Linked DNA regions of Homo sapiens: region 2 is linked to region 1. Evidence: fine-mapped expression QTL. A gene starts in region 1. The other region holds a variant in brackets. All regions are shown on one strand. Distances are from middle to middle. Region 1 holds the start of TIMMDC1 (translocase of inner mitochondrial membrane domain containing 1). Region 2 overlaps CD80 (CD80 molecule).

What was found. PIP is the estimated chance that this variant, and not a neighbour inherited with it, causes the effect. A credible set is the group of variants that fine-mapping cannot tell apart.
Region 2: its variant is the best candidate, but not a certain one, in a credible set for the expression of TIMMDC1 in skeletal muscle (GTEx, PIP 0.87).

Annotation. Positions count from the first base shown.
Region 1 is chr3:119,495,515-119,501,041 of GRCh38, forward strand. TIMMDC1 (translocase of inner mitochondrial membrane domain containing 1) reads left to right here and starts at 3,033. Exons shown (of 7, transcript NM_016589.4): 1 at 3,033-3,413; 2 at 5,181-5,346. The coding sequence starts at 3,220. RefSeq lists an enhancer at 2,773-2,822.
Region 2 is chr3:119,548,237-119,553,236 of GRCh38, forward strand. All of the region lies in intron 2 of CD80 (CD80 molecule), which reads right to left. Among named protein-coding and RNA genes, the nearest start is that of CD80, 8.9 kb to the right of the region's middle. RefSeq lists an enhancer at 2,076-2,295. The variant G/T (reference allele first, on the strand shown) is at 2,585.

The DNA of each region.
Region 1 (5,527 bases):
AATACTTACCAGATACTTCTTAAGCATCTACTATGCACAGAGACAAGGAAAGTTTACAAGAGGCTCCCAAACCTCAAGGGGCTGTGCCGTTGAGATGATAAACAATATGAGAGGCATCATACATACGTGGAAGGTGATTAAGGCAACAGGAGTGCCAATTATTCATGAAGACAATGTGGATCTGGAGTTTAGAGGAAGAATAAACTTCCAACTGGAGCAGATGGGAAACTTTGTGGAGGTAAAAATTAATTTATACCATGAAGGATAAGTAAATGAAATGGTTCTTGGAGTTCTCAAAATTCATTCTCTCTCCACATGTTGAAAAGTTTTATATCATATATAATGTAACAAAATGTAAAATACGTAGCAAGGGCAGTACTTGGTGAACCTGGCAGGGAAGGGAACCTGCTGACCCCTGAGAAAAAAATTCACTGTGAGGGAAGAAACTATTAGGTTCTATAAACAGAATTCAGCAACAAGGGCTGTTGGTGGAAGAATGGTGTTCCAGGCAGTATGGTGATTGCACTGAAATCTTTCCCTGATGCAGTTACTCTGCTGGCAAACACATGTCCTGGGGACAAGAAAGCCATATGTGAAACAGTGGTCCAGTAAACCCCATAACACCTTTTGGCTTAGACCAAGCTTGTCCAACCCATGGCTCACGAACTGCACGCGGCCCAGGAAAGCTTTGAATGCGCCCCAACACAAATTTGTAAACGTTCTTAAAACATGAGATTTATGCATGGACTTTTTTCTTTTTCTTTTCTTTTTGTTTTTTGTTTTTAGCTCATCAGCTACAGTTAGTGTTATGTGTGGGCCAAGACAATTATTCTTCCAATGTGGCCCAGGGAAGCCAAAAGATTGGACACCTCTGGCTTAGACTGTATTGATCGGAGAACCTTCAAAAAGAGCAGACTACAGCCTACAGGGCTGGGCTTGGTGGCTCACACCTGTAATCCCAGCACTTTGGGAGGCTGAGGCAGGCAGATCACTTGGGGCCAGAAGTTTGAGACCATCCTGGCCAACATGGTGAAACACCATCTTTACTAAAAATACAAAAATTAGCCAGGCTTGTGGCACATGCCTGTAATCCCAGCTACTCAGGAGGCTGAGGCACAAGAATCACTTGAACTTAGGAGGCAGAGGTTGCAGTGAGCCGAGGTCTTGCCACTGCCCTCCAGCCTGGGTGACGAAGCTAAGACTGTATCAAAAATAAAATAAAATAAGCAGACTACAGAGGAGGGTGAGCATTTCCCTTGTTCTAAAAGAAGGTAAGCCGTAAGGGATTGGGGAAGTAGGAAATGTGGGAGGGCTCAGATGGAAGAGCAGCAACAGTGCGAGCAGTAGCCAAAGGAGAGGGGAGTTTTTTGAGTTATCAGGTGGCAAAAGGAACATTACAAATGAGTCTTCCGTTACCCAAATGAGAAACAAGTTATGGAATTTAAAATTTGCCTGTTAATATTACCTCATCTACAGGCTAGTGAATCCTGGGGCATTTGAGTTGTACATAAGTGATTGTGTCAGTATCTTCCCAACACCCACCCAAACCCTCCTACCCATTTCAAGTCCTCCTTCACCCCAGAATAATTCTGGGGTCATCTTATGCATTTAGCTTTTTCTACATATAGGTTAGAAACAGACTGTACAGCCATTTTCTTGGGCTTTCAGGCCTTGGTAACTTATCTTGGTGCCCACTTCTACCTAACATGGGATAAGCAGTAATCCAGAGCCAGAAGTCAGGAGATCTGAATTATTCAACAAATATTTACTGAGCACCTACTGCGGTTCTAGGTCCTGGAGATACAGAGATGAATATATTTGGTCTGTGATCTCAAGGATAGTTTATTGAGACAGATTAATAGGAAATTATGATGCAGTGTTGTAAGTGCTACGATGAGTGCTGAATCAAATCTCATATCCCAGAGTAGTCTTCATGGCGCTGTCACTAATTGAGCTGGTCACTCTAGTCAGTCACTTCTCAGGGACTTATGTGTAGCATTTCCAGCTATCAAATTCCTAAGTCCACTTACTGTATTCTACTACAGTGTGGCAGTTTTGATTGACAACTAGAAAGGAATCAAGGAGGTGAAGGGATTGGCAAAATGAATAAGGGAGTATGCTTGTTAACAAGGATTGAATGAAATTACACGAATATTGAGAATATTTTAAATGCATTCATTTTAATGAAAACTGTACTTCGAAGCATATGTTAGCAGAGGTTGTAGTGACGGCAAATTATACAAACACTTGATAGAAATTCCAGAAATTCTCCTGCCTTTTGAGAAGCAGTAGGCATATGAACTAAAGGGAGTGAAATCCACCTTAGGAAGACCTGCCAAAAAGCTGATTCTTCAAAAAAGTGTTCTCGAAATCTTAGTGTAACTGGCACCAACACCCATCCCCAATGCCTCGTTTTTTTTCCAGCAGAACTGACAAGGTACAAACGGACCCCGCCCAGCCTGGAAGGCTTCTCTAATGTTGGCAGAGTAGGTTGGACTTGTTTTTGCACAAATCGCCTTTCCCTCTTTCCCTACTCCACTTGCACTGAATATTGCACTTTCTTCCTTACTGAAGCGGGATTCCTGCCTTTTTTTTTTTTTTTTGAGACAGATTTTCGCTCTTGTTGCCCAGGCTGCAGTGCAGTGGTGTGATCTCGGCTCACTGCAACCTCCGCCTCCCGGGTTCAAGCGATTCTCCTACCTCAGCCTCCCGAGTAGCTAGGATTACAGGCGCCCGCCACCATGCCCGGCTAATTCCTGGCATTTTAAATACGATAAATTACTTCAACCTATGACCACCTCAAGCTGAATATAAGTAGCCGCAGACACCGTTTGCATGACCCAGGAACCACAAACACGGAGCGAAGGCCTGCCGGGACCACGCTGAGCTTCACTACTGGCAGCCAACTCACTTCCGGGGGTGCACTCAGCACAGCAGTGGCCCAACCCGCCCTCAACCGGAAGTCTTTTGGGCTCCGGCTTCGCCGTCGCCCCGCCCCCTGGCCTTTGCCCCGGTCGGGCGGGACTTCCTGTGTCGTATTTCCAAGGACTCCAAAGCGAGGCCGGGGACTGAAGGTGTGGGTGTCGAGCCCTCTGGCAGAGGGTTAACCTGGGTCAAATGCACGGATTCTCACCTCGTACAGTTACGCTCTCCCGCGGCACGTCCGCGAGGACTTGAAGTCCTGAGCGCTCAAGTTTGTCCGTAGGTCGAGAGAAGGCCATGGAGGTGCCGCCACCGGCACCGCGGAGCTTTCTCTGTAGAGCATTGTGCCTATTTCCCCGAGTCTTTGCTGCCGAAGCTGTGACTGCCGATTCGGAAGTCCTTGAGGAGCGTCAGAAGCGGCTTCCCTACGTCCCAGAGCCCTATTACCCGGAATCTGGATGGGACCGCCTCCGGGAGCTGTTTGGCAAAGAGTAAAAGTGCCTAGGGTGTGAAGTGGGGTAGGGGGCCGCGAAAGCGGTGTCCTGCAGCGTGGGCAGCCTGGGTCAGCCTTAGGACACCAAGGATGGTGTGCTTCATTTTTAGATTATATTTGAGGTTCTGATATTTGTAACCCAAGCTTGTATCTTTTTTCTTTCTTTTTTTTTTTTTTTTTTCCAGACAGGGTCTTGCTCTGTCGCCCAGGCTGGAGTGCTGTGGTGCTATCTCGGCTCACTGCAACCTCTGCCTCTGGGACTCAAGTGATCCTCCCACCTCAGCCTCCCGATTAATTGGGACTACAGGCGCGCACCACCACGCCCGGCTAATTTTTTTTTAATGTATTTTTTATAGACAGGGTTCTTACCATGTTGCCTAGGCTGGTCTTGAACTCTTGGACTTAGGCGATCCGCCTACCTCGGCCTCCCAAAGTGCTGGGATTACAGGCGTGAGCCACCGCGCCAGCCCAAACTCGTATTTTTCTTTCTTTTTTTTTTTTTTTTCGAGACTGAGTCGCGCTCTATCGCCCAGGCTGGAGTGCAGTGGTGCGATCTTGGCTCACTGCACTCTTCACTTCCCAGGTTCAAGCGGTTCTCCTGCCTCAGCCTCCAGAGTAGCTGGGATTACAGTTGCCCACTACCATGCCCAGCTAATTTTTGTATTTTTAGTAGAGACAGGATTTCACCATTCGCCAGGCTGGTCTGGAACTCCTGACCTCACGTGATCTGCCTGTTTCCGCCTCCCAAAGTGCTGGGATTACAGGCCTGAGCCACCGCGGCTGGACTGCGCCCGGCCTAGAAGGGCAATTATTTTATAGTAACTTAATACTTAAGACAGCTATTTGTTAGAGCAGTCTCAGGATGACATCTTGGAAGCTTCATTAGCAGTTCTAGCTTCTTATGCATTTGAGAGTAACAAATCGAATTAAATAGTAGTTTTTCCTTGTTATTTTAGATTGGCATGTGCCACCCACTGCATAGTGAACTTTCCCAGTGCGTTTTTAAAAAAACATTTATTTGTTTATTTTTAGAGCCAGGATCTTTGCTATGTTGCTATGCTGGATTTGAACTCGGGCTCAAGTCCTACCTCAGCCTCCTAAGTTAGCTGTGACTACAGGCGTGTGCTACTGTGCCCAGCCCAGTGCTTTTATTAGTACAGTCCTATCTGAGTATTTCATGAAATTATTTAGTAAAATAGAATTTAGATTTTTTGTCTTACATCCACGTTTTTATTCTTTCATACATTGCCCTAAAATCTCACGAGTTGGTGTGATTTCTAAAAGTTAACTTAAGATTTAAACGGAAATATTGGTCTCTCTATCCAACTCACAAATTCTTCCTATTTCTAGGGGTGTAATAGTCATCAAAAGCACCTTTTAAAAAACTTTTTATTGGAGTAGGAAATGCATTTCGAAAAATGTGCCTAAGTATACTGATGGATGAATTTTCACAAACTGAACATAGCTGTACCCAGCACTAAGAAAGAAATGGCAACTATTGTAACATCCCAAAAGCTCCCCTTGTGCCTTTTCCGGTCATTGTCTTTTCAGGAGTTGCCACTATCCTAATTCTAACACCATAGCTTCGTTTTGTCTGAGACTACGTTCCTTTTAATATAACTGAACTGTTTAATTCATCTGAGAATTCTACCTATGATGAAAAATGTTGTGGTGGTAGCATTTGGGTTAATTCTGATTATAGAGTCTCTTGGAGAGCAATGTCCATAAACTAATCCCAAACAACATTGTCTTTTTGATGTTGTAGTGAACAGCAGAGAATTTCAAAGGACCTTGCTAATATCTGTAAGACGGCAGCTACAGCAGGCATCATTGGCTGGGTGTATGGGGGAATACCAGCTTTTATTCATGCTAAACAACAATACATTGAGCAGAGCCAGGCAGAAATTTATCATAACCGGTTTGATGCTGTGGTATGTACTGGTGATCTAAAGAAATTTGGGGCACACTGACTTAGTAATTCACTTTACACTTAATCATTCAATTAGGTTGTGGGGATGGAGGGTTGTTTTAAGGTGTCAGAGTAAAGAAATAAAGTCTGTACTTAATAACAGTGGAAGTACTAATGTTAAAGTGCCTGCATGTTGTTTGAGA
Region 2 (5,000 bases), 52 kb after region 1:
CTCCCAAAATGCTGGGATTACAAGTGTGAGCCACCACGCCTAGCATGATGAGACATCGTGAGCATTCAGAAATATGGAAAGGCACCTGCTTGTCTTATGTATATAGCCAGATGCCTATGGGCCAGGAGTTGGGGACAGAGACAGGGATCCCTAGTGAGTGAGAAAGTCCACTGGTCCCCTGAGAAGACCTGAATATAAGTGCCAACCATGGGTTAAACGATGTGCTCAGCCCCAGGGGATATGAAAGTCATAGTAAGGAATGTGAGATCTGGAAGGGACTTCCATGATCATTCATTCTCGTGGCCTTATCTTACAAATGAGGAAACTGAGCTGAGGAAAAGAAACTGCCCCAGTTTTACACATTTTTTTCTTTCTGGCCCAGGCTTTTAGGGCCATTCTTCTTGTTTACCGATTTCTTCAGTTTTAGGCCACAGTCAGTAAGTTAAGCCAACACTGTCCCCACCCACCCCAATCCAGCCCTACCACTGAGCCCTTTTGCTATAAGAAACAGAGTCCCAGGCCGGGCATCATGGCTCAAGCCTGTAATCCCAGCACTTTGGGAGGCTGAGGTGGGCAGATCACGAGGTCAGGAGTTTGAGACCAGCCTGGTCAACATGGTGAAACCCCATCTCTACTAAAAATACAAAAAAATTAGCCGGGCATGTTGGGACACACCTGTAATCCCAGCTACTTAGGAGGCTGAGGCAGGAGAATCACTTGAACCTGGGAGGCAGAGGTTGCAGTGAGCCAAGATCACACCACTGCACTCCAGCTTGGGTGACAGAGTGAGACTCCGTCTCAAAATAAATAAATAAATAAATAAATAAGAAACAGAGTCCCTTTCTTTCCAGGCCTGATTGATCCCATGGTTCCAGGCTGAAATGACTCCCATGCTTATACCTTTGGACTATTTCTACCATCTTCAGGTACCCTAAATGGATCCTATATCCTGCCTTTATCTCTTTGGCTATCTGCAGTCCATGCCATACAATTACCCTCCAGCCTGGATTTGCTAAAAGAGTTTTTATTTAAAATATTCTGTTCATTTCTCCATCCACATAGCCAAGAAATATCAGCATATCAATATCTAAACTAGTCTCTGTGTCAATAGCACCAAAATTCCTTAGCAGGCTGTATTTTCTGATTTTTGGTTTAGAAGGCATGGTCATTCTTCCTAGGCTCTTGTAGGACCTAAAAGCAGCATCCCTCTAAGGCCCCAGCGCCCCCTGCCCAGTGCTGTCGTACTGTGCCTTCTGGGCCCTGTATCCCCTGGAGCCACACAGATCCCCTTAGGGAGACCCATGTCTAGGGACTTCATTTCCAAGCCCTCTCTTTTCTTAGATAGCAGGATCATGGGGCACTAGCACCTTTCCATCTCACCAGCCATTCTCAGGCCTCTGTCAGACTGGATACGGCCCCACCACAGCACTGAACAAGAGAGTTTTGTGATGGTGGGTATTTGCATAGCAAAGTGAGGTAATGCAGAAAGGTCCAGGCACCTCTTCAGCAATTGTGTGGAATGTTGCCAGTCCCTGCTTTAGGGAATATAACTGAAAGAAAGGAAGAAATAAAAAGACATACTTGAAGGGAGCATATTTCAAAGTGAAGCTATATTAGCTAAAGATCAAATGACAACCCAGACACTCCTAGTGTTGCAAGGAAAGCAAAATGAGACGTAGAAGGAACATGGGCTATCCATCTCCATTGACTTGGATTCTAGTCCCAGCTCAGCCACTTGCTGTTTCATCTGTTTCTTCATCTCTAAATAGGTATGACACCTACCCCTTGGGATCACTGGAAAATTCAGTTCAATTAAATGATATAAATAAAAAGTCCCAAGGACATAGCAGGTCTTCTGTAAGAGTTTCCATTTTTCTTTCTCCCTCCTCCCACTGCCAACTCTTACCTTTCATTTCACTCAAGGGTTATGTCAGATATATAGCACTCTGGTCTTGCTATGGGCCAGACAGACAGCAACTCACTTGTCTGGGCCTCCCAATAATAGGGTCTTTCCCCACCGAACTATTCATTCCCAGCCAAAAAGAATCCAATATTTCTCACTGATTTTGGTATGTGGTGATGTTAGCAAAAGTGAAAGCATAGCTGAAAGAGAGACTATCTAATTTTGGTGATGGCTTCTGAGGAGTTTTTGTCCAGCCTTCTGAGGAGAAGAGTGAAGAAGAACAGGACTAAAAAGAGGAACCCAAAATCTTCCGAACAATTTGGAAATTCACACGGGAACCCAGTTTTCGGGATTCCACCACACAGAGACAGAAAACAGTCATTATAAATTTGCCCAAATTTATATCAGTTTTGTCTGTTTTAGGGACTCCATCACACACGGACAAAAAGCAGTTGAAACGGAAATGTCTCTAACGATTTTGTCTGCTTCAGTGACTGGCGGGGAAAGTCAGCACCTGGAAATCTCAATATTACTGTCTCAAACCTGGTTGAACTTCTGAGCTTGCTTTGCCATTTTTGAATGGGCATTGTAACACCTACCCAACCCAGTGGGTGCAAGGATTCAAAATGAGATACTGCTCATAAAAGTCCTCCACAGTACCTAGGACATTAGAGGGAGCCA[G/T]TGTCTTCCCCAGAGATCCACACAGTTCAGGTCCCACTTTGCTCACATCTACTCTCGTGGCCCCTTGTCAAAGAGGCCTTCCCTGACTCTCCTTGAACAGCGCCATCCTCCCTGCCCCCCTCCATCCTGCTACTCTTTAGTCTCTTTGCCTGATTTGTTTCTCTTCAGGCTTGTCTCCAGCTGATATATATTTTTACAACTGTGATGTATATTTACAGGTATATGTGATACATAATTACGTATGGAGCTATGGAGCAGAGGCTTCCTCCTTTGTTCACTGCCATATCTGCAGTGTCTAGAACAGGGCCTGGCCCATAGTAGGTGCTCAGTAAATACTTGCTGAATGCATGTCTAGGCATGAGGAAATGAGGTCTGGCTCCATCCACTGTGTATTAGAATCATAACCTTGAGCAAGCTGGGTAACCTCTCTGGGCTTCAGGTTCCATCTCTGTAAAACAGTCATAATACTATTGCTATGATTTGAATGTGTCCCCTAAAGGTTTTGTGTTGGAAATTTAATTCCGGGTGCAACAGTGTTGAGAATTGGGACTGTTAAAAGGTGATTAGGTCATGGAGACTCTGCCATCATGGATGGATTAATGCCATTTTTTTGGGAGTGGGTTCACTACAGCAGGAGTGGCTTCCTTATAAAGGATGGTTTTGGCCTCCTTCCTACTCTGCCTTGGGCGTGCTCTCCTGCCTTTCTATCCTCTGCCATGGGATGATGCAGCAAGAAGGTCCTCATCAGATGTGAGCCCCTTGACCTTGGACTTCCCAGCCTCCAGAACAGTAAGAAATAAATCTCTGTTCTTTCTAAATTACCCAATGTCAGGTATTCTGTTATAGCAGCACAAACCAGACCGAGATAACTATCTTCCCTGCTTCACATAATTATCACAGCGATCACAGGATACCAGATGTAAAGTGCTTTCTTAACTTTAGAATGCTCTACAGATTTTAAATGGGGCTGTTCTTTCTCATGCACAACAGCCTGCTTTGCTGAACCACACCCCCATAGGACCAGCATCACCATGGTAACTGGCTGATTCTTGAACTGAGTTCAGTGCCCATAGCTGGCATGGGGAGCCCCTCCTGCACCTCTACCCAGCAGCAGTCAGAAAGGGCCAGAGGCTGTGAAAGGAGGCGGAGAGAAGGCAGAGATGGACGGCAACGCTGCTCGCCTTCTGGCGAATGCATGGAAACTGCCCACCTGTAGGGCACAATAGGGACACTCAACACTGCTGGCCTCAGCCTCTGCCTCTCCTGACCCCTTGGCCACCCTCCTGCTCTGACCACTTCAACTCTGGACTGCTAGCCACACAGGAGAGGAAGCTATTTGCCAACAAGAGTAGAGACCAAGAATTTTAGACAAATAATGGACCTCTCGGCCGGGCGTGGTGGCTCACGCCTGTAATCCCAGCACTTTGGGAGGCCGAGGCAGGCGGATCAGGAGCTCGAAGATCATCCTGGCTAATACGGTGAAACCCCGTCTCTACTAAAAATACAAAAAAAATAAATTAGCCAGGCGTGGTGGCGGGCTGATTTTTGTGTGGAGGACTTTTACGAGCTGTAGTCCCAGCTACTCGGGAGGCTGAGGCAGGAGAATGGCGTGAAGCCGGGAGGCGGAGCTTGCTGTGAGCCAGAGATTGTGCCACTGCACTCCAGCTTGGGCGACAGAGCAAGACTCTGTCTCAAAAAAAAAAAAAAAAAAAAAAAAAAGGACCTCTCAAGGGCTCAATCTAGGCCAGGCACCCGTAATCCCAGCACTTTGGGAGCTGGCCAAGGCGGGTGGATTGCTTGAGCCCAGGAAATCGAGACCAGCCTAGGCAACATAGCAAAAACCCCATCGCTACAAAAAGAAAAAATAGATCTCAATCTACAACAGAATATTATTTCAGAATATTATTTGGCCGTAAAAGCGAATGGAGTACTAAGACATACGCAACATGGATGAACCTGAAAGACATAATGCTCAGTGAAAGAAAATAGTCACGAAACGCCACATATTGTAAGAAATGTCCAGAATATTCTTTCTTACCTGGATTCTGGAAAAAAAGGAAGAGAAAAGAAATGTCTAGAACAGGCAAATTCATAGAGACAGAGAGTAAATTAGTGGTTACGAGGAGATGGGGTACAGGGGAATGAGGAGTAGCTGCAAATAGGCGCAGGTTTCTTTCTGGGATGATGATTTCCATCATCATCCAGAACATTTCCTTCTGGAATTCGATAGTGATGGTGGTTTCACAACATTGCAAATATACTAAAACCCACTGAATTGTACACTTTATTTATTTATTTATTTATTTATTTATTTATTTATTTATTTATTTATTTACTGAGGCAGAGTCTCGCTCTGTTGCCCATGCTGGAGTGCAGTGGCATGATCTTGGCTCACAGCAACCCCCGCCTCCAGGGT